Regions from separate parts of the Homo sapiens genome. Here regions 2, 3 and 4 are each linked to region 1. Evidence: fine-mapped expression QTL. A gene starts in region 1. Each other region holds a variant in brackets. All regions are shown on one strand. Distances are from middle to middle. Region 1 holds the start of PDZD8 (PDZ domain containing 8). Region 2 has its middle 23 kb from the start of PDZD8. Region 3 overlaps PDZD8 (PDZ domain containing 8). Region 4 overlaps PDZD8 (PDZ domain containing 8).

The links. PIP is the estimated chance that this variant, and not a neighbour inherited with it, causes the effect. A credible set is the group of variants that fine-mapping cannot tell apart.
Region 2: its variant is the best candidate, but not a certain one, in a credible set for the expression of PDZD8 in whole blood (TwinsUK, PIP 0.88).
Region 3: its variant is the best candidate, but not a certain one, in a credible set for the expression of PDZD8 in iPS cells (PhLiPS, PIP 0.87).
Region 4: its variant is the best candidate, but not a certain one, in a credible set for the expression of PDZD8 in lymphoblastoid cells (GTEx, PIP 0.87).

The regions. Positions count from the first base shown.
Region 1 is chr10:117,372,559-117,378,224 of GRCh38, forward strand. It overlaps PDZD8 (PDZ domain containing 8), which reads right to left and starts at 2,882. Exons shown (of 5, transcript NM_173791.5): 1 at 1,798-2,882. The coding sequence starts at 2,669. RefSeq lists silencers at 2,373-2,552, 2,653-2,972 and an enhancer at 3,203-3,322.
Region 2 is chr10:117,395,517-117,401,182 of GRCh38, forward strand. No RefSeq gene overlaps it. Among named protein-coding and RNA genes, the nearest start is that of PDZD8, 23 kb to the left of the region's middle. The variant A/C (reference allele first, on the strand shown) is at 2,458.
Region 3 is chr10:117,329,246-117,334,911 of GRCh38, forward strand. The region is part of intron 2 of PDZD8 (PDZ domain containing 8); the gene reads right to left. Among named protein-coding and RNA genes, the nearest start is that of PDZD8, 43 kb to the right of the region's middle. The variant GTTTT/G (reference allele first, on the strand shown) is at 3,255.
Region 4 is chr10:117,340,846-117,346,511 of GRCh38, forward strand. PDZD8 (PDZ domain containing 8) reads right to left here. Exons shown (of 5, transcript NM_173791.5): 2 at 135-257. Among named protein-coding and RNA genes, the nearest start is that of PDZD8, 32 kb to the right of the region's middle. The variant A/C (reference allele first, on the strand shown) is at 3,115.

The sequences.
Region 1 (5,666 bases):
TTTTTCTCATGACTTTTTTGGCAACACACTGCTATAAATAAACATCTCTCACTGCTTAAACACTAGAACCGAGTTATAATTTAATCACTGATATTCCAGAGGTTAAAAGTAGGTTTCATAAAGTATGTTCTACTTCACAGAACCAGAAATCGAACACAGTGAACAACCAGTTCACCACCCTCCGCAAATCTATGGAAATATTTCCATTACAAAGTAAATTTCTCCTGCCACGCAAGTTTTAAACTGTCACTCTGCGCTGTTAGCCTAAACAAAACATAATTGGTAAGGTACATCTGCCACATACAGAAGTCAATAATCCATTCCAAACCCAAAATATTTCTGGATTATCTTGCTCCTGAAAATTGACACTGGTAGAAAATTAGTGATCCAGAAATAGGCAACTTCCACTAAAAGGCAAGTAAAATTAGGTAAGTAAAATACAAGACTGACATAATTTTATAATAAAGGGCAAAATTTTAAAGGCTCAAATGTCTTAGTGAATACAAAATTAAAGGAGGACCGAAAGAGAAGTTAAAAATTCAGCTTTTTACAAAAGAAAAAGCACCTTCCACTCCACCTCTAGCCCTAAAAAAGTCTTTCCCCTTCCACTCCTACAATATTAAAACAAAATTTATATACTACTCAAAACTGTATACCACAAAATTTAAGCCATCAGATGCTGGAAGGCTTAAACAAAATTAAAATCACTACCTAGCATTAAAATACAATTTGTACAGTGACTTCAGGTCCCTTGAGAGAAGAACTTACAGTCACAGAGAGTAAATGCTTGATGGGCAGAGTCTGGATCTGTGTTCTACAATCTACCCAAAATGGGCAAATGACATTAATACAAAATGTAAAGTACACTATGTACAGGCTCCCAACTCCTTTCCCATCTGCTGTGGAAAGTATTCCCGGGCCGGGCGCGGTGGTTCACTCCTGTAATCCTAACACTTTGGGAGGCCGAGGCAGGCGGATTACTTGAGGTCAGGAGTTCGAAACCAGCCTGGCCAATACGGTGAAACTCCGTCTCTACTAAAAAATACAAAAAAAAAAAAAAAAAAAAAAAAAATCAGCAAGGCGTGGTGCCATACGCCTGTAACCCCAGCTACCTGGGAGGCTGAGGCAGGAGAATCGCTCGAACCTGGGAGGCAGAGGTTGCAGTAAGCCGAGATCGCGCCACTGTACTCCAGCCTGGGCGACACAGCAAGACTCTGTCTCAAAAACAAAAACAAAAAAAACCCACAAAAGTATTCCTTTGCAAGAGTTACCACCTCTGCCTTGAAAGGTGTCAAACCATCAAAGCAAAAGTGGCTTGCAATGTCAAATTAGCACAGACCTGGGCTATAAGCACACTCTTCACGCGTGTACTGTGTCCAGGAACAATTTCTCAAAGCGGCCAAGGGGATGCTGCAAAGCCAGTGACGCGGCTGCCCTCAATGCAGCAACCACATAGAGGGAGAGTTTCTCAACAGTCCCAGAAGCGACTCCTGGGGATTAGGGTAGGCTTCCCTTCCATTTCCAATATGCTGCTTATAAAAGGAGACGATTCTGCCCGCGTTGACAGCACCCTGAGTCCCCATGAACACGCGAAAAGGTTTCTAGCTCCTATCAATGCCGTTCGGAAGCAAAGCAAGTGTTCACGACTCGCCTTGATCTGGGGCCCTGTCCAGGGTGGGAAGGCCCCAGAAGCAGGCGCCAGGACAGAAATGAGCCTTTGCCCTTCCCAATCCACGCAGCGTCCCGCCCAGGCCCGGGTTCCCGGCAGCCAGGCCCCCTCCCCGACCTCCAGCTCACCTGATCTTGTAATTCGGTAGGGTGTGCTTGCGCTTGATGATCTTCTTGAGCTGGTTGACGATGATGGAGGTGAGCTGGGGCATGGGCCGCCCTTCAAACTGGGAGCGCACCTCGAAGTCGATCAGCGGGTCTTCCACGAAGGAGAAGAACCAGTGGGTGAAGGGCACGCGCGTAAAGACCAAGCGCAGCCTTCCCACCACGCGGGACAGCTTGACAAACAAGTAGGCGGACTTGCCGAAGACCAGGTCCACGTCGATGGCCAGGTGGAAGCCCCCGTTGTACTCCACCTCCGCCTCGAAGGCCAGCTCCTCGGGGCAGGCGGCGGGCAGCGCCTCCCCTTCAGGGCCATCGGGCTCCCCGGTGGCCGAGGGCACGACTGGCCGCACGAGCCGGATGGTCTTGATGAAGGGCACCGTCTCGCCCAGGAACACGTCCCGCAGGCTCAGCCCCTCCAGCAGGCGCCCGGCCGTCTTGGTCTGCAGCAGCTCCTCGAACTCCACCTTGATCTTCTTGGTGACCCAGCGGCGGGTCAGCGCGGTGTCCCGCAACTCCCGGAACAGGAATAGGATGGTGGCGTTGAGGAAGTAGCAAGTCTCCCGCGTCGGCGGGGCGGGGGTCTCGGGGGCCGCGGTGGGGGTCGCGCCGCCCTCAGGGGCCGCTCCGGAGGGCTCCTCATCCCGGCCGCCGCCATAAAGGTACTCCCTTAGGAGCAGGCCCGGCACTGGCTTGATGTAGCGGAAGCCCTCGCCCGCGCGGGCGGCCTCGTCCGCCGGCGGCTCGGGCTGTCTGCGGTACAGCAGGAAGAACTGGGCGAGGAGCGTGAGGAAGGAACCCAGCACGGCCGACGCCAGGATCATGAGCAGCAGCCCCATCCCGCCACCGCCTCCGCCCGGGCCCCTACTCCCGCGCCCACAGCGCCGCTTTCTTCACGCCGCCGCCCCCGCTGCCTCCATTTTGAGGACATCGGGCGGCTGGGTCGGGGCGAGCGGCTCCGTGGGCCTCGTCCAGGGGCTCGGGCCGGCGCGCTGCGGCGCCCGAGCCCGCAGCGGCCCGCGCCTCCTCAGACGCTCCCGAAGGGCCGGTGTGGCGGCGGCGGCAGCGGGGCCGGGACCGGCGCCTCCCTCAGGCCTCCACTCATTGGACGAGCAGCGCGTGACGTCAGAGGCGTGCTCGCTCCCGGCGGCGTCGCCCAGCAGTCGGCGCCCGGGCACGCGGACGCGGGTCCTCCTTTACTTCTCTGCGGCCCTTCCAACCTCGTCCCCCCACGCCAACATTCCAATCCCCGCGGCGCGCGCCGCCACCCACGTGGCCGTCACTTCTGGAGCTGCGGTCGGGATCTGGGAGGACGGCTGGGGACGCGGGCTGGAGGATAAGGCGGTCCGGCGGAGCGGGCCTGACGCGTTCCGGATGCCGGCCATCCCGTTATCCTCGGCTGCGCCCATCCCCCGTCTCTGGCCGCAGTCCCCGCGGTTACCTCTGCAGCGGCGTCGCTCATCCTGCGGTGTGCTTCTTCCACTCGCACCCGTGACAGCCCGGCTGGCAGCGGCGCTTTCCCTGCGGGCAGCACCGCAGACGATCCGAGCGGGCCTTTCGGACGCTTCCCAAGCCCACGGCGAGAGGGGACCGACTGCCTCAGAGGCAGCCATCGCGGACCTGCCGTCCCCCCGGCAGACGCTCTGCGTCCGCGGAGGGTGGGCCCTGGGAAGGAGGGACGCAGGGAAAGGGCGCGCCACGCGGAATGACTTTCCCACCGAGGTGGATCTTCGAAATTTCAGGGAGGAGGAAGTTGAAAGAACAGCCAGGAGGAGAGATGCATAGTGAAACGAGTTTGCCAAGTGATTGGAAGATTAATATGCGACCCGCTGTCAGTCTCTGGTTAAGCCGGTAGTCCATCTATGAGGCAGTTATTCACTGTTAGCCCCCACCCACTTGACAGATGCCAACACTGGTGCAGAGAGCGTGGGGAGGTTGCGTGGGGCCGCAGAGTGGAGCCTGGTTTATCTAACACTAAACCCTAATGTCTTGATCACTACTCTCTGCCCTAACACAGAAACTGCTTCAGTTGTAAGCAGGCCAGTGGGTTCCCTAATGTTCAGGAAGGGAGAATTGGGGAGGCGGATTAGGGAAGACGGCAAGGAATTTTGCATAGAGTAGCACCTTAACCAAAGCCACGAAGCTAAGCCAGGTTGCCCAGCAACAGCGTTACTCCTCCTGCCCTCTGACTACTTAGTGGTTACATCATAAATGCTTATCCCTCCAAGCACGTGGAGTTCCAGTCCTGCAGGAGTCAGATATCCCATACCTTAAAGGCCGATTCTGGCTGTACCTAAGGAGCCAGGGCAGGGCTCCTCTCTAGCCCTTGAAAACCTTCAAGCCGGCCGGGCGTGGTGGCTCACGCCTGTAATCCCAGCACTTTGGGAGGCCGAGGCGGGCAGATCACGAGGTCAAGAGATCGAGACCAGCCTGGCCAACATGGTGAAACCCGTCTATACTAAAAATACAAAAATTAACCGGTCGTGGTGGTGCGCGCCTGTAGTCCCAGCTACTCAGGAGGCTGAGGCAGGAGAATCACTTGAACCCGGTAGGCGGGGGTTGCAGTGAGCCAAGATCACGCCATTGCACCCCAGCCTGGGCGACAGTGCAAGACCCTGTCTCAAAAAAAAAAGAAGAAAACCTCCAAGCCAAGGATTCTCTTAACTGTAGGTGATTCTACCACAAAAATAGACCTGACCCAGCTGGGACAGGTACAGAACTTCGGAACCAGGCTTATCATGCCTTACCGAATCATGCCCAGATACGAAACCAGAATGGCTTTCATTACTATGAAGACATAAGATAGGTGTCTGCTGAGGAACCATGCTCAAACCATGGCCGAGATTTTTCGGAGATCTTGGCAACTTCTGTTCTCTGGTCCCCTTTGGTTCCTGGCCTCTGCTTCTGGGCTGCTCTCTGGGATCTACACTGTTTCAACTCAAATGAGAAATGTAGACCCTTCTATGATTTCCACCGTAAACCTATTCATAACATTCATGCACATTGCATATTATAAATGTTACAGAAGCTGGAAGTAGGGTGGCATGAAAGAAGTTATTCACATTCCTGAAATATAAAACCCTCAAACTGTATATTGATCCATCCCGAGTTGCAAAATATTCTTCACCCACCTCCCTCCTCAACAATGAAAGTTTGTGGTCTTCATGGGAATGAGTCCTCAGTCTTCATCTTGCAGACTCCTTTCTTTTCTCTTCTCCTCTCACTTCTGCGCTCCTCAGAATACCTGTGAGAATCTTAAATCTTCTCAGTTTGTTTTACAGAGTCAGAGTCATTGCATTCCCCAGCAAAACTTGACCCCTTAGGGACACACTTCAAATCCATGAAAGAGCTCAGCAAACCTTTTGGGAAGAAAAAAGTATTCTCCCTTGTGTGAAACATGACCAACATTGATTAAACACTAATAATAATAATACAGAGAACTGACCATGTGCCAAGCACAGTGTTAAGCATGTTATTTAGAAATATTTAAATATTTCAAACATTATTTAGAAATCAAAATATCATGAGTTTTTGTAAAGTCAAATATGCAGTCATGCACCATAGAAGGATGTTCTTGTTAACGACAGACTGCCTATAGGATGGTGGCCCCATAGGATTATAGTACCGTATTTTTACTATGCCATTTCTGTGTTTAGAGATGTTTTGATACACAGATACCATTGTGTTATGGTTGCCTACAGTATTCAGTACAGCAACGTGCTGTATAGATTTGTAGCCTAGGAACAATAGGCTATACAATATGGCCCAGGTATGTAGTAGGGTTTCCCATCTAGGTTTGTGTAAGGACACTCTGATGTTCGCACAATGATGAAACT
Region 2 (5,666 bases), 23 kb after region 1:
GTACACATGGACACAATGAAGGTAACAATAGACAACACAGCCTACTTGAGGGTGGAGGGTGGGAGCAAGGTGAGGATAAAAAAACTACCTATGCTTATTCCCTGGGCAATATGCTACCTGGGTGATGAAATAATCTGTACACCAAACCCCTGTGACATGCAATTTACCTGTATAACAAACCTGCACATATACCCCAGAACCTAAAATAAAAGCTAAAAATAAATAAATAAATAAAGTGGGAATAATGACATAGGGTTATTGGGAGGATTTAATGGCATAATATGTAGAAAGTACTTAACACAGGGCCTGGCACATATTTAGTGTCAATAAGTTAGCTATTATTAGTTAAATTTTTAAAAAACTCTATCTGATCATCTGATTATAGCAGTCAGGCTCATCTTCAACATATGTGGGGCCAGGGCTAGAGTACAAATGGTCTAAATATTTAAAATTATAACTAAGTGGCATGCGTTGTAGTCCCAGCTATTTGGGAGACTGAGGCAGGAGGATTGCTTGAGCTAAGGAGCTTGAGGCCAGCCTTGGCAACATAGGAACCCTATCTCTATTAAAACAACAACAACAACAACAAAAATTAGCTGGGCCTGTTGGCTCATGCCTGTAGTTTTAGTTACTTGGGACACTGAAGTAGGAGGATTGCTTGGGCCCAGAAGTTTGAGGCTGCTATGATTGCACACCACTGCACTGCAGCCTGGGTAACAGTGAGACTCTGTCTCTAAAAAAAAAAATTAAAAAAAATAATAATAACAAAATAGAAAATTATAAATCAAGCTGCAAAATACATTTTTTCTCCCCCTACATTGACAAATACGACTTCATAATGGAAATTTTCTTTTTAAGTTGGAAAACTATAGTTTTTATCTGACTGAAAGTCTACAAAATATCAAGAATAACTGAATTCAGGTATTACTGTGTACGTGCTATTGATGGCCCAGAAATATTTGAATGAGTGATAAAATAAAGACATATATCATGAGTCATTACATATTTCATAAATTTTTTTTCTTTCACAGCAAGAAAAAAACTAATTATCTAATTGCAATTAAAGTATGCAAATAATTTACATTCCATTGATATGATCCAAAAGATTAAAACATAAAATTATATTCAAAAAGTATCAAATTTTAATATATTTCCATCAAAAATGTAAAATGAAAGTAAATGTAATAGTTAAAGTTGAATATTTTTGAAAAAAATTTTTAAAGCATGAAAAATATTTACATTAAAAGGCAAAGTAGAGGGTCGGGCATGGTGGCTCATGCCTGTAATCCTAGCACTTTGGGAGGCTGAGGTGGGCGAATCTCAAGAGATTGAGACCATTCTGGCCAACATGGCGAAACCCTGCCACTACTAAAAATACAAAAATTAGCTGGGCGTGGTGGCGTGTGCCTGTAGTTGCAGCTACTCAGGAGCCTGAGGCAGGAGAATCACTTGAACCCAGGAGGCGGAGGTTGCAGTGAGCCAAGATCGTGCCACTGCATTCCAGCCTGGCTACAGAGTGAGACTCCATTTCCAAAAAAAAAAAAAGGGTTAGGCGAGGTGGCTCATGCCTGTAATCCCAGCACTTTGGGAGGCTGAGGCGGGCGATGGTTCACCTGATGTCAAGAGTCCAAAACCAGCCTGGCCAGCATGGTGAAACCCTGGCTCTACTAAAAATACAAAAATTAGCCAGGCATGGTGGCAGGTGCCTGTAATCCCAGCTAATTGGGAAGCTGAGGCAGGAGAATCTCTTGAACCCAGGAGGCGGAAGTTGCAGTGAGCCGAGATCGTGAGATTGCACTTCAGCCTGAGCAACAGAGCGAGACTCCGTCTCAAAAAAAAAAAAAAAAAAAAAAAAGGCAAAGTAGAAATTATAAATTAATGAGTGTAAAAATTATAGATGAAATTATTTCAGTAAAGTTACATTTTTTGTTTAAAATTTTAACAGTGGAGTTAAATCATAATAAATACTTTTACAAAAATAAACTATTCAGTATTCTAGCATTCACCGTTTTAACTTAGTTGCCAATACAAATAATCAGTACTACATGCACTTATTTCATGCCTAAAATTACAAATCATATCTTCAAGATGTCAATCATGACATTGGGTTATGGATAGTTGATACGTGATGGTTCTACTACAGCCTAACCACATGGTGACATTTTATTATGTGATTCGTGTAATTCATGAAGAGTTTAGGAACCACAAATGAAAGAAATAAAATGAAAAGAAAAGCTCAGCATGACAGGGAATGATACTATGCGAAACAAAAATCTGTTTTATTCATGCTCTCTGGGAGGAAGAAATTGACAAGTTAATTAATTTGCTTTTTCTCTTCCTAATGGTCCCTACCACTAAAATGCTCTCTGCCCTCTGAAGCTGTGTCCATCTCTGATGTTGGCAGCAGCAACCCAAAAACCTTTATGACCTTCAGGACAGGTAGCCTTTGTTTTGAGG[A/C]TAAAAGGTAAGAAATATGGAAAAGTGTTCCCTAGGGCTTGAGCAGCGTTGGTGCCAGGAGCAGATGTTTAGGATTAGGGGTAGTGATATGCCAGTGCTGAGCACCAGGTCCCATGTGACAAAGGAACACACATGTTCTTTAAGAAGTGTGTATGTGTGTGTATTAGTCTGTTCTCATGCTTCTATAAGGAACTACCAAGAGGTCTAATTGACTCACAGTTCTGCAGGCTGTACAGGAAGCATGGCTGGAAGGCCTCAGGAACTTACCATCATAGCGGAAGGTGAAGCGGAAACAAGCATGTGTTACCATGGCCTAGCAGGAGACAGAAAGAATAAAGGGGAAGCGCTACACACTTTTAAAGCAACAAGATCTCATGAGAACTCATATACTATCATGAGAACAGCAAGGGGGAAGTCTGCCCCCATGATCCAATCACCTCCCACCAGACCCCTCCTCCAACATGTGGGGATTACAATTTGGCCTGCGATTTGGGTGGGGACACAGAGCCAAACCATATCAGTGTGTGTGTGATATTATGGGGTCACCCTTCTCTTTCCCAGGTCTGAGGGCAATATGGAAAGGAATACCCTGGATAATTGACTGATTGATAGGTCATCTGGGGTATTTGCATTGCAAATAAGCACTTCTGCGTAGTCCCCAAAGAAGCCCTGGGATGAAGGGGGCCTTAGAAGGTGGTTTTGAACTGAGAGACTTCTTGCCTACATTGGCCCTTTCTGCCCGCCACACATCAGAAGAATGAGGTTCAGCAGCTGGGCATCTCATTCTGAGCCTGCACTCTGTACACTTTTGCTAAGGAAAAGTAGAGTCACATTGGTTAAGAAAATACATAGCAATCAAGTGTCTTAATTCTTTTTTTTTTTTGAGATGGAGTTTTGCTCTTGTTGCCTAGGCTGGAATGCAATGGCGTGATCTCGGCTCACCGCAATCTCTGCTTCCCGGGTTCAAGCAATTCTCCTGCCTCAGCCTCCCATGTAGCTGGGATTACAGGCGCACGGCACCATGCCCAGCTGATTTAGTATTTTTAGTAGAGATGGGGTTTCTCGATGTTAGCCAGGCTGGTCTCGAACTCCCAATTTCAGGTGATCTGCCCGCCTTGGCCTCCCAAAGTGCTGGGATTACAGGTGTGAGCCACCATGCCTGGCCTAAGTGTCTTAATTCTTAATTACCTAATAGCAGAGTTTCAGGAGAGTACTTTGACAAATAACTTAATAATAAACATATCAGAATGAAACAACTAATAGAAAAGGATAAGATCCTGATCTTCAGAAAATGCCAACACTTTTGTTTTTCTAAGTCATGAAAGAAATCATCAAGATATACTGCTCATAAAATGTCTACACATAAAGGTACCATTTATGAGCACAATACAACAGCCTAAGCCCTCCGATAAAAACTGAAGGAAGTGTAGAATTCTCATTTTATAGAGAAGGAAATGGAGGCACAGAGAGGCTAACTGGCTTGCACACGGTCATACAGCTGCTAAGTGGCAGGGGCAGTATTCCAAGCCAGCCACGTCCAGATTGTGACTGTGTAACCACCATGGCATACCAGCCCTTTGCTCTCTTCCACCATACATCCAAAGGAATCAGATAGTCAACATTAGCAAAGAAAAATTCCGTGGGACCCCTAGCTGACCATCTTTCTTCTGTGCACCCTTCAGTTTCCCCCAAAAGACAAATAAGTCTTTTTAGCACCATGTAAACATTTAATAAGCGTGTGTTAAATTTTCAGTTACAAAGTGTAAAGCAACATTTGCAGGCCTACCTTTCCTGTTGGGTAAAAACCTGACCACTGAACCATGGACTACCTCTTCCCTCTAATTGCAAAATGTTGACTTACTTCATCTTTTGAAGACCAATGATCTTTGCAAGGTTACTGTATGTTTAAAAAAAAAAGTGCCTTCAGGGCCTTGAGTCATAAGATGGGAAAACATGTTGAAGTGTTACAAAAATATTGACAGTATCTCTATGATTTTTCAGTATCTTTATGATTAATGAGATTTTAGGGCTGGACATGGTGGCTCACACCTGTAATCCTAGCACTTTGGGAGGCCAAGGTGGGCAGATTGCCTGAGCTCAGGAGTTAGAGACCAGTATCCTGGGCAACATGATGAAACACTGCCTCTACTGAAATACACACACAAAAAAAAAAAAAAAAAAAAAAAATTAGCCGGGAGTGGTGATGTGTATCTGTAGTCCCAGCTACTGGGGAGGCTGAGGCATGAGAATTGCTTGAACCCAGGAGGTGGAGGTTTCAGTGAGCCGAGATCACACCACTGCACTCCAGCCTGGGCAACACAGCAAGCAACTGTCTCCAAACAAAACAAAACAAAAAACCAAGATTAATGAGATTTTAAATAGCTTTACTGAGATATTTTTCACATACCTTAAAATTCACCCATTTAAAGTGTACAGTTCATTAGTTTTTAATATATTCAGAGTCGTGTCACCATTACTACAATCTAACTTTAGAACATTTTCAACGCCCTAAAGAGAAACCCATATCCATCAGCAATCACGCCCTATTTCTTCCCAACCCAGCAACCACAAATCACCTTCTGTCTCTAAGGATTTACTTAATTTGAATATTTCATGTGAAAGGAGTCAAACAATATATGGTCTTTTGTTACTGGCTTCTTGCACTTTGCATAATGTTTCAAGGTTCATCTGGTTGTAGCAGTTATCAGTACTTGATTTTTCTTATGGTCAAATAATATTCCATTATATGGATATATAATTTGTTTATGCTTTCATCTGTTAAGTGTTTAGGTTGCTTCAACTTTTTGTCTATTATGAATAATACTGCTATGAATATTTGTGTACAATTTTTAGTGTGGATGTAGGTTTTCATTTCTCTTGGGTATATACCAAGAAGTATAAACCCTGGATCATATGACTTTATGATAGCTCTATGTTTAACCTTTTGAGAAACTGCTAAACTTTTTTTCAAAGTAGCTGTACCATTTTACTTTCCCACCAGAGAGTATGAGGATTCCAATTTCTCCATTTGTTTGCCATCACTTGTCTTGATTTTAACCATCCTAATGGATGTGAGGTAGTATTCGATTGTGGTTTTGATGTGTATTTCCTTAAAGTCTAATGATGCTTTTCTTTGGATAAACGTGTTTTCAAATCTTTTGCTCATTTTTAAATTGGGCTATTTATCTTTTTATTACTAAGTTGCACGG
Region 3 (5,666 bases), 43 kb before region 1:
CAGTACTACTAAACAAAAAAGCAAAAGAAATTGCCTTTTATCTCCTCTAAATTGCCGTCTATCTCCTGAAAGAGCTATTACCTCTGTGAAATTTCTTACCAAGTTCAAAGTATTCTTTTAAAGGCAAAGGTATGTTGAAACCTTCCAGTAAGCATAAATACAAACACCACCTAGAAACATGTTAAGATCGTTTACATGATTAACCCATTTATACCGGAGGTTGAAAAATTTTTTTGTGAAAAATCAGACCTTGGCGATGACGTTGAGCAGTAGGATATAAATAACTCCCACAAGCTTAGAGTTCCAATAATGGAACACTAGGTATAAATGGATTAAAGATGAAACCAATGAGAAAAGGAAAGTAATTCCCAATGCTCATGCTATAAGAAAGTCATTTCTACAAAGAAAAGTACAAAATGATGGGGCATGGTGGCTCATGCCTGTAATCCCAGCACTCGGAGAGGCCAAAGTAGGTGAATACCTTGAGGCCAGGAATTCAAGACGAGCCTGGGCAACATGGCAAAACTCTGTCTCTACAAAAAATACAAAAAGGAGTTGGGTATGGTGGTGTATGCCTGTAGTCCTAGCTACTCGGGAGGCTGAAGTGGGAGGATTGCTTGAGCCTGGCGGGTGGAGGTTGCAGTGAGGCAAGACCAAGACACTGCACTCCAGTCTTGGTGACAGAATGAGACCCTGTCTCAAGAAAGGAAGGAGGGAGGAAGGGAAGGAAGGAAGGAAGGAAGGAAGGAAGGAAGGGAGGGAGGGAGGGAGGGAGGGAGGGAAGGAGGGAGGGAGGGAGGGAGGGAAAAATCTGTTTTTTTTTTTTCCTTTGGTGACTAAACTTAATTTGAAAGGAAAACCCTGCACTTGAAGGGGGTCAAATACCACTTCACCTGTTGTTAAAAGAATCAGGCTTGGTTGACCTTTTATACATGCTCACCTCCTCTCTATATTCCCAACCCCCCTCAGAAACATCCTCATGCAGAACTCAATTTTCCTCAATTTTCACGACTTCCAAATCTAATCTTCAGTCCTCATTTTCCCCCTGCTACCTCTAAAACCCCAAGAGTTTGCAGAACACTCCTACAGGGAAATCTAACCATGCCTTACTACTTAAGATATGTAAAATCAAATTCATCTGCCTTTGAAATGAGTACCTCTATTTCCCCATCCAGTCCTGGAAGGTAACTGTGTCTTGTTCTTTCTATCCTATAACATGCAGAAAATAATCAGTACTTGCTGAGCAGATCAACGTCAATGGATACATAACTCTCCTACACTCAGATCCTTAGAGTTCCTTTGCCTCCCCTGCCTATTAACTCATCCATATATTCAGTCACTCACTAAACCCTGTCCTAGTTATCCCACGTGTCCCTTCCTTCTTGTTCCTATTAAAACATATCTATGAGGCATTTACTTCCTCACCTTTAACCCACAACACCTCTTAAATTTGTCTCTGGGACTTCAATCTCTATATATACAATTTACTCCATAAATATGCACATTTTTCTTAATATCACCTTCAATAACTTTTCTCTGATTAAAGGATCACCATTGTAACTTCTCTTGCCAGCAAATTTGGCCCTGAGACATCTACACTTCATTCAGACAAGACCTGGAAAATACTTTACAATTCTAATTCTCTTTTATCTTATGGCTCTTTTTCCAATTACCTAAAATCTACAATCCATCTAGTTTCCTGAATCTTATCCATGAAGTTTTCCATGGTAGTGTCAATTCAAAAATACTTTTTCCTTGCACTAAGTTTCTATACTACCCATCACTTAAGCCTCAATTCAAATTAGACAGCCTCATATAGTTGACTTATTTATGCATTTGTTTTTGTCTGTTAGCCCTAACTACATTTTAAGTTTCTAGAGGGCAGACACTGAGCTCCATATTTTTTGTATTCATCGTAGTATTTAGACAAAATGCATTCACTATTGATGTTGGAAAGACTGGTGGTAGTGTGGTGGAAGCAGTAGTGGTGGTGGTAGTAGCAGAAATAGTTGAAGCAGCTAACATTTACTGTAAGGACAATTCTAAGAGCTTTACATTTATTATTTCATTTAATTTTCACAATTACTCAAGGAAATAGGTAATGGTATTACCCCTAATTTACACATTAGAAAATGAACACAGAGAGGTTGAGTAACATGCCAGACATTGCACAGCTAATAAATGAAAAGTCTGGACTATATAAGTTGAGACAAATGGGTTGAAAAAATTTTGAAAGAGAGAAAATAAAGGCAGTTGTCTTTTGGTTAAAATTACAAATGCTACCCGTGAATAAAATACATTAAAAGCACTGATTATCAAAGACACAATCCTCTTTTAAATTATTATTTTCTGACCACAGTTCATTTTTGCTGAAGGTATTGTATGAGTGTATAGCATACCAATACAGCATTTAAAACATTTTGGAGTATGGCATTTTAAAAAAGAGCACTGGTATTATGTCAGCTGTGTTCCTACTTAGTTTTCTTACATTCTCTTACAATTCAGACATCAGAAGAATTAAAGAGCTATATTTTGTAGTATGAAACAGTAGTGGAGGTATACAATTACAAAAGAAACAAGGCTATTTTCCAGCATCACAACCTTAGGGAAAAGGATATGGGGAAGAAAAGAGAGCCTACATAAATACAGGAGGGAGAAATTCCAAATTTGCAGTCTTTTGAAAAGTCTGCCTCTAGTCAAAAGCAACCTAATTATACGGAAGATTCTTTATATCTGAGAGAAATGTATAAAAACTAACGGAAAACATCACTCAACTTTTATTTAACTGCATATAAGATGTTAAATAATTAATAAATGCAAACATAGTCTCAAAATCTTTACAGGAACTTGGTTCATCTGGTAGAGTTATGCCTAAATTTACACAGAATTACACAGCTTTAAAGACTTTGAGGAATAATATTCAGCAACAATTCCAAGTAATTCCTTCTGGTTTTCAAAAGCATTCATTTTGAGTGCAACTTTTCCTTTATACAAATTTAAATGTCTTATGCCTGAGCTAATTTCCTCTTATCGTTCCCTCCAAGAAAAAAACAAAAAACAAAAAACAGAACTTCAGCCTTCAACTAAAAAATACTTCATTATTATACACATTTCTCCATCCCTCGATCTTTCTGAAAAGGTAATTTATTTTAAAAATAATGCCCTGCCCTAAAAAATGTTACAATTTTCCAAAACCTACACTTCTAACATAATATAAAAGTTTTCAGAACCAAAATAATTTTTATTCTGTAAGG[GTTTT/G]TTTTTTTTTTTTTTTTTTTGAGACTGAGTTCTGCTCTTGTTGCCCAGGCTGGAGTGCAATGGCGCCATCTTGACTCACCGCAACCTCCGCCTCCTGGGTTCAGGTGATTATCTTGCCTCAGCCTCCCGAGTAACTGGGATTACAGGCATATGCCACCACGCCTGGCTAAGTTTTGTATTTTTAGCAGAAATGGGGTTTCTCCATGTTGATCAGGCTGGTCTTGAACTCCCGACCTCAGGTGATCCACCCACCTCGGCCTCCCAAAGTGCTGGGATTACAGGCGTGAATCACCACGCCTGGCCTCTGTAAAGTTTTTTTAAAAAAGGATATGGGCCAGGCGTGGTGGCTCATGCCTGTAATCCCAGCACTTTGGGGGGCCAAGGCAGGCAGATCACTTGAGGTCAGGAGTTTGAGACCAGCCAGGCCAACATGGTGAAACGCCCGTCTCTACTAAAAATACAAAAATTAGATGGGTGTGGTGGCGGGTGCCTGTAATCTCAGCTATTTGAGAAGCTGAGGCAGGAGAATCACTTGAACTTGGTAGGCATAGGTTGTGGTGAGTGGAGATTGCACCATTGCACTCCAGCCTGGACAGCAGAGTGGACTCTGTCTCAAAAAAAAAAAAAAAAAAAAAAAAAAGGGGATATGGAGGCAGAATAAGATAACAGAAAGACCGAGGAACTCTGGAGTTAGACAAAACTAGATTCAAATTCCAGTGGTACTGAGCAAGTAACTTGTGGATCTCAGTTCATCTATAAAATGGATATAATAACACTAATCTTGTAACGATGCTCTAAGAGCTGAAAATAATACATGCAGTAAAGTACCTACATATTGCAGATAATAAGTACAACTAATAATACAATTATTTGTAGAGCCATGCCCCAAATATCTTCAGATTTAGCTAGATATTTTTCCTTAAAAAAATGTCAAAACATTAAAATAAAGGCAGGTAATATAAGAAGCACCCACATACCAACTACTCAGGAAAAAAGCAAATATTATTATTTAGCCTCATTTGCTTCAGGTGGATTTAAGTTATATTCAAGCCAAAATAACCAAACAAATTTAATCAAACTCAATGCTAACATAAACGGGATTCATAGACAAATGCAAACTGGAAATATTTTGAAGTTATAACTACTAAAATAGCTCCTCTTGTAAATGAATTTCAAAATTTCATAATATTAGCAGCCTTCCCTACAGAACTAAACATTTCACTTTAAAATATGAACATAATGCTATTTAAAGGATTAATTCCCTATTTCTCTCTTCTGTCAAACTTCTACTTTGAAAATGCTTCACCTAATATGTGAATCAAGACCAGATGACAACACTAAAAAAGAATTTAATCACATAATTAAATGATTTTCTTTGCCTTAAAAGATCAATGTATTTCTGGTTCCAGAATGATGTCAAGAGTGGTGACACAGTTTTGAGTCTCCCCAAAACCCCCCCATAAAAGGACAAAAAGCAATGAGGGAAACAAAAGCAAAATTCAACAACATGTACAACAAAATGAGGTGGCCAATACTTTAACAGTAGTGAAGTGTCACTCAAATTCTTCCACAGATTGTAATTATAAAAACTGGATAAACAAAATTTTTTATCACATTTAAAGACAATGAAAACCTTCTGAATGTAGACAGAAGCCTGCTTTGAGATTAATATTTCAATTATCAAAAAACTGCAGCTGCAGGCAGGGCACAGGGCTTCATGCCTGTAATGTTGGGCTTCATGCCCAGCACTTTGGGAGGTTGAAGCTGGTGGGCTGGATGAAGCTGGTTGAAGCAGGAGTTTATGACTAGCCTAAGCAACAGGATAAAACTCTTTCTCTACTAAAAATACAAAAAATTAGCCAGATGTTGGTGTCACATGCCTGTGGTCCCAGCTACTTGGGAGGCTGAGGCGGGAGGATCGCTTGAGCCCAGGAGGTCAAGGCTGTGGTAAGGCATGATCATGTAACTGCACTCCAGCTTGGGTGACAGAGCAAGACCCTGTCTCAAAACAAAACAAAACAAAACTGACTCCTAATGTGCTCAGATACTAGATTTAGCAGATCAAGGCTTCAATGCAGCCATTATATATATATATGGCTCAAAAAACTGACAGAACATTTGTTCAAAGAATTAAAGGAAAACATAATGAGTGAACAGATAGGAAATATCAACATAGAAATGAGACACTATACAAAACAGAAATTCTAGAGCCAAAAAGTATAATAAATGAGATTAAAAATTCACTAGATGAGCTCAACAGAAAACTGGAGATAGGAGAAGACTCAGTGAACCTGAAATTAGACCACGTGAATTACTCAATCCAAAGTACACAGAGAAAAAGAATTTAAAGAAACAAACAAATAAACAAGCAAACAAACCAAACCTCAGGGGACCTATGGGAAAATGAA
Region 4 (5,666 bases), 32 kb before region 1:
TATTAAATTTACAATTAAAGAATTTACAGGTAAATAATATAATTTAAATGAACACACAACACAAATACTGCTTAGGAATATTTTCACTGCACTGTTCTTCCCGTAACTTAGTAATGACAAAACAAAGAACATACCTGCTACATTCTAACAACGTAACTTTAAGACGGCCTTCAGTAAGTGCCCATTGTTGTATATGGATATGCTCTTCATCTTCTTCAAATCCTTGCAAGGTCTGGTATGGAAAAAACGGCTTAAACCTGACAAAAGTAAAGATAAGTCTAAATGTCTGAATAATAAACACCACAGTTTAAAGCATAACAAAACTCACCTGTACAAAAACACAAAGCAAAATGAACACCTAATACTACACGTGCTCTACAAAACCAAAGCTTACCACACTCCCCCATAACTGGCAGCAAATGGTGCCTTCGCTATGGCACCCATAAGTCTTGGTTTTTTGGTATGCCCCCATTGATAAGGCAAGAGAGAACAAAGAAAAGAAAAGCCTAGAGGCAGCAAGTAGGCCATGAAGTTTAGGTGGGGCAGGAGAGAGACTGTGAACCAGATGGGAAGAGTGTTCCTACGGTACAAGATCAAAATTCAGAATGCATGTTCCATGGAAATAATATACAGTCCCCTTGGCATCCATGGGGGATTGGTTCCAGTACTTCCCAAGGATACCAAAATCCCAGGATGCTCAAGTCTCTAATATAAAATGGCCCAGTATCTGCATTATACACATTCTCCCATATGTTTTGAATCATCTCCAGATTACTTATAATACCTAATACAATGTAAATGCTATGTAAATAGTTGTTAAGACTATATTGTTCAGAGAATAATGACAAGGAAAAAAGTCTGTACATGTTCAGCGCAGATTAAATTTTTAAAAAATATTTTCAATCCACAGTTGTTTGAATCCATGGATGTGGAACCCATGGATGTGGAGCCCACGAATACAGAGAGCTGACTATTACAGACAGTGATTAGTACATGATAAAGATGACTGTAATAGCAACATCAATAACAATTAACACAGCAGAGATATTCATTAGAGATGTTTACTATTTGCCAGGCAGTATGCTAAGTGCTTTTTACATGCATTATCTTATTTAATGCTCACAACCCTGAAGAGGGCAATATTATTGGCTCCTCTCTCCAGATGAAAAGAATGAAGCTTAGGAAGGTTAACAAGTTTGTTCAATTTTACAAAGTGAATGGCAAAACCAGAATTCAAGCTAGTCTAATTCCAAAGTCCAACTATATAACACCTCAGTTACCTATGAATTATCCAGGCATTCATATGCTCATCACTAATATTGTTGTTTTTATGGAGAAGTTTGTGCTGAGTTATAAACTGTAGGTTTTAAAAAACTTTTAATTTAAAACACAACTCATACTCCTCCATTAAAGCTAAAGAAAAAGAAAATGAAAGAAAATTGGGCTTAAAGCCCCGTGGTTTTCAATTCACCCTACACATTGTCACTAGCCATGATATCTACTTGCTCAGAAAGTTTTAGTGGCTTCTTACTGACCACACAAACAGATACACACACACACACACACACACACACACACACACATAGTCAAAAGTTCTTGGTTTCACATTTAAGGTCCACCACAATTAATGTTCCTTTTTTATTTTTTCTTGAGACACAGTCTTGCTCTGTTGCCCAAGCTGGAGTGCAGTGGCACGATCTTGGCTCACTGCAACCTCTGCCTCCTTGATTCAAGCTATTCTCTTGCCTCAGCCTCCCAAGTGGCTGGGATTACAGGCATGCACCACTATACCTGGATGATTTTTGTATTTTTAGCAGAGATGGGGTTTTGCCACGCTGGCCAGATCAGTCTTGAACTCCTGACCTCAAGTGATCTGCCTGCCTCGGCCTCCCACATGGCCTCCCAAAGTGCTGGGATTACAGGCCTGAGCCACCACACCCAGCCCACAATTAATCTTTCTAATCATATATTCTCTTAATATAAACATTCCAATCTAGAAAGTCACCTCATATGCCCAGAAGACACTATGAATATTCCTGCCTTCAGGCCTTTCATACCAACTGGAAGTTTTCCCAGATTCCTCAAAGCCTGTCCAAATCCTCCCCTCTTTCGCACTCGGCCATACATGCTGCTTTCACTCTTCTCTATCTTGCAGTCCTCTAAATTGCGTGCATTTATGCCTTAAAATGTCAAATATGACTTAGTCTCACAATTCTCTGCATCCATCATCCATACCTGACGGGATGTTTCACACACTATCAGGATTTGAGTATGTGTTGCGCTGATTTACAAAGAGTTAACACTAAAACTGAAATAAACACTTAGAAAATATCAATGGCCTACTATAGTTTATACTGAAAGACACTAATAGAGGGGGTTAAATGCTGTTTTATGTTTTCCCAGTAAGTAAGATTAAAGAAAAAAATTTTAAGGAAATGTTAAGTAGGGACACAGGCGATGCTCAGTGGTTTTCTCCTGTTTCTAAACTAGTATGGAAAGCAGAAAGCCCCCCGAGTTTCTCCCAACTAAAACGCTAATTTGCATTTGAAGTCATTTGATTCAGACAGACTGGCACCAAATTTTTAGAGGGAAAAAAACTAGTAACTAAATTTATATCAATATAATGTTGTAGCTGGGTGCTTTTAACACACAGTCCTTATGACTCCTGAAAAACATATAACTGTTAGTTTGTAAAAAAATTATAATAACCATATACACTAGAAACTTTGAATTTAATAATCCAAGTTAGCTAAATCACAACTGCTCTAAGAACCAGCTTTCCTTGTCAAATATAAAGTCAAAATTCAATAAAATTTCTCACAGGAGTATGAGTTGAATGTTATATGGATTAAAGTCTAATTTGGATTTACTAATGCTCAGGGGGTTTTGCTAAGAGTGTTTATGCACAAAAATAATCTAAAATCAGAACAACGTATTCCATTTTAAATGAATATACTAAACGGTGGGATAAAGCATGAACATGTTCGGCAAGCCAATAAATAGAATCCACACATTAACATTCTCTAAGAACCTTTGGTTTTCAGAATTTTTAAGTCCAAGTCTTTAAGTATCCCAAACCCATAAAGAATCCAAACAATGAAGCGGGCTACCTCT[A/C]TCACTTTCTTTTATCTTCCTATTCCATCATATCATCTTTCTTCAAAATCCATTAGTCTTTATTTCCTAATTAACCTATTAACTCAAAAATGTCAGTTTTCTCACTCAGGCTTCCCCGCAAAATAGTCTTAACAAACTACCTGTACTTCCTCCTGTAGAAAACTTAAAAACCCAAACTAGGAAGATCGACTTTAAGGATGACAGTATGAAGAGCCCTGCTGATCTGCTCCCCAGTGAAATTCGTGAAAATTATTTTAAACCAAAACATTTACAGCCTCTGGAAATGATCTTAAGAGCAAACAGCAAATTTTAAAAATCTACTTAAGAAAATCGATGACAATTTGATAAGAAAGCCAAGTCTGTGGTGTTTGAACCCTGTTTCCCCAACAAGCTCAGGGTGGCAGATTCCACAGTAGACTTCTTTACTTTTTATTTTTTATTTTTTTGAGACGGAGTCTCAATTTGTCGCCCAGGCTGGAGTGCAGTGGCACAATCTCGGCTCACTGCAAGCTCTACCGCCTGGGTTCACGCCATTCTCCTGCCTCAGCCTCCCGAGTAGCTGGGACTACAGGCGCCCACCACCACACCCGGCTATTTTTTTGTATTTTTAGTAGAGATGGGGTTTCACCGTGTTAGCCAGGATGGTCTCTATCTCCTGACCTCGTGATCTGCCCACCTCGGCCTCCCAAAGTGCTGGGATTACAGGCGTGAGCCACCACGCCCGGCCACTCCATGCTAGACTTCTATTGCCAGGAACACAGGGCTCCCTCATCCCACAGCTCTCATTTGGTGGGCTTTCTCCCTGGGAAGAGGAGGATAGGAACATTTCTCATCTAGCCTCCAGTCACCTGTTACTTCCAGGCAAGTTCAGTCAAGAGGAGGGGGATTCCTTCATTGACCCAGCCCCCACTCATGGAATGGAGGGTCTACCTTGGGCACAGAACACTGAGAATACTGGAACCCTGACTGTCTTGCCCTGGCTCATGAGGAAGTGGTTCCATAGTGGGAAAGGCAAGCCAAGAGGACCTCTGGCTACTCTATCCCCAATCTAGCACTCAGCTCCTAGAGTTGTGGTATCACCCAGAGAGAAGCCTGCAGTAGTCTTCACCCCTAGCTCCAGAGACCTGGTTCTGATTATTTTGCTAAGGGGAAAAGAAGAGGGAGAGGCAAGTCAGAAAACAGATTCTCCCAATCTCTTCCCAAAGGAATTAATTTCATTTACAATAGTCTGTGAAGAAGCTCAAACCTAAAGGCACTACCAAGAACAATGGAGGTTGTGGTGAAAAGCACATGTCTTCCTTCATGGATTTAAGGAAGACATATCCTAGGCTGCAGGCTGCTGTGCCCCTAGTAGAGAAACAGGAAATAAGACAGCTGGGAGGAGCCCTCCTGGGGTGAGAGCAAATATCAAACACTTACCCAAGAAACTATTCCTGAAGGAGGCACAATTTGACTGGAATAGTTTGTAGAACAAGTTATGCCCCTGGGTGCTGTTAAAAGCAATAAGAGAGTTAACACTAGTGGGGGGGTAAGTGGGGTGGGTGTACTGTACTAAAATAATCCAGGCAGTCAACCTAAAAACAGACAAGCAAATATCAAGCTCTGGGTAAGGGGAGACCAGTATCTAAGGTTGCTACAATATATTATCTAAAGTGTCTGGTTTCCAAGAAAAAGTTATGAGACATAAAAAGAAACAGAAAAGTATGACCCATACAGCAAAAAACAAAGAAAAAACAAAACAAAACAAACAAACAAAAAAACACACACTGCCTGTGAGAAGGACCAGATGTTAGATTTAACAGAAAAAGATTCAAAATTTGTGGAGACCAAAGTTCTTATTTACAGAGGAAGCCTTCAGGTAGTAGGCTTTGGAGAGAATAGGCTGTAAAACGTTTCTTATCAGACTTAAAGTCTGTGTCCATGTTAAATATGTCTCCATAAATATGTTCATGGAAAAAGACATGATTAAAGAACTATAGGGGTTCAGCTATAGGGGTTCAGCCAGGCGCGGTGGCTCAAGCCTGTAATCCCAGCACTTTGGGAGGCTGAGGCGGGCAGATCACCTGAGGTCAGGAGTTCGAGACCAGCCTGACCAATATGATGAAATCCCGTCTCTACTAAAAATATAAAAATTAGCCGGGCGTGGTGGCATGCACCTGTAATCCCAGCTACTCAGGAGGCTGAGACAGGAGAATCGCTTGAACCTGGGAGGCGGAGGTTGCAGTGAGCCGAGATTGCACTCCAGCCTAGGCAACAAGAGCGAAACTCCGTCCAAAAAAAAAAAAAAAAAAACTATAGGGAGGTATTATGACAATGTTACACTAAATAGAGCATACCAATAAAGAGACAGGAATTGTAAAAAAAGAAACTATGAACCAAAAATAAAATTCTAAGATCCCCCCAACCACCTGATTGAATTTCCTCCTCAGCCAGGGCACTCTTAAAATTTAATCTGAAAGAATGGTTCAAGCCATGATGGCAAATGGGGGTCGGACATGCCAGAGATGCCTCATTATACCCCTCCAGCATTAATAATACAGGAGTTATTAATA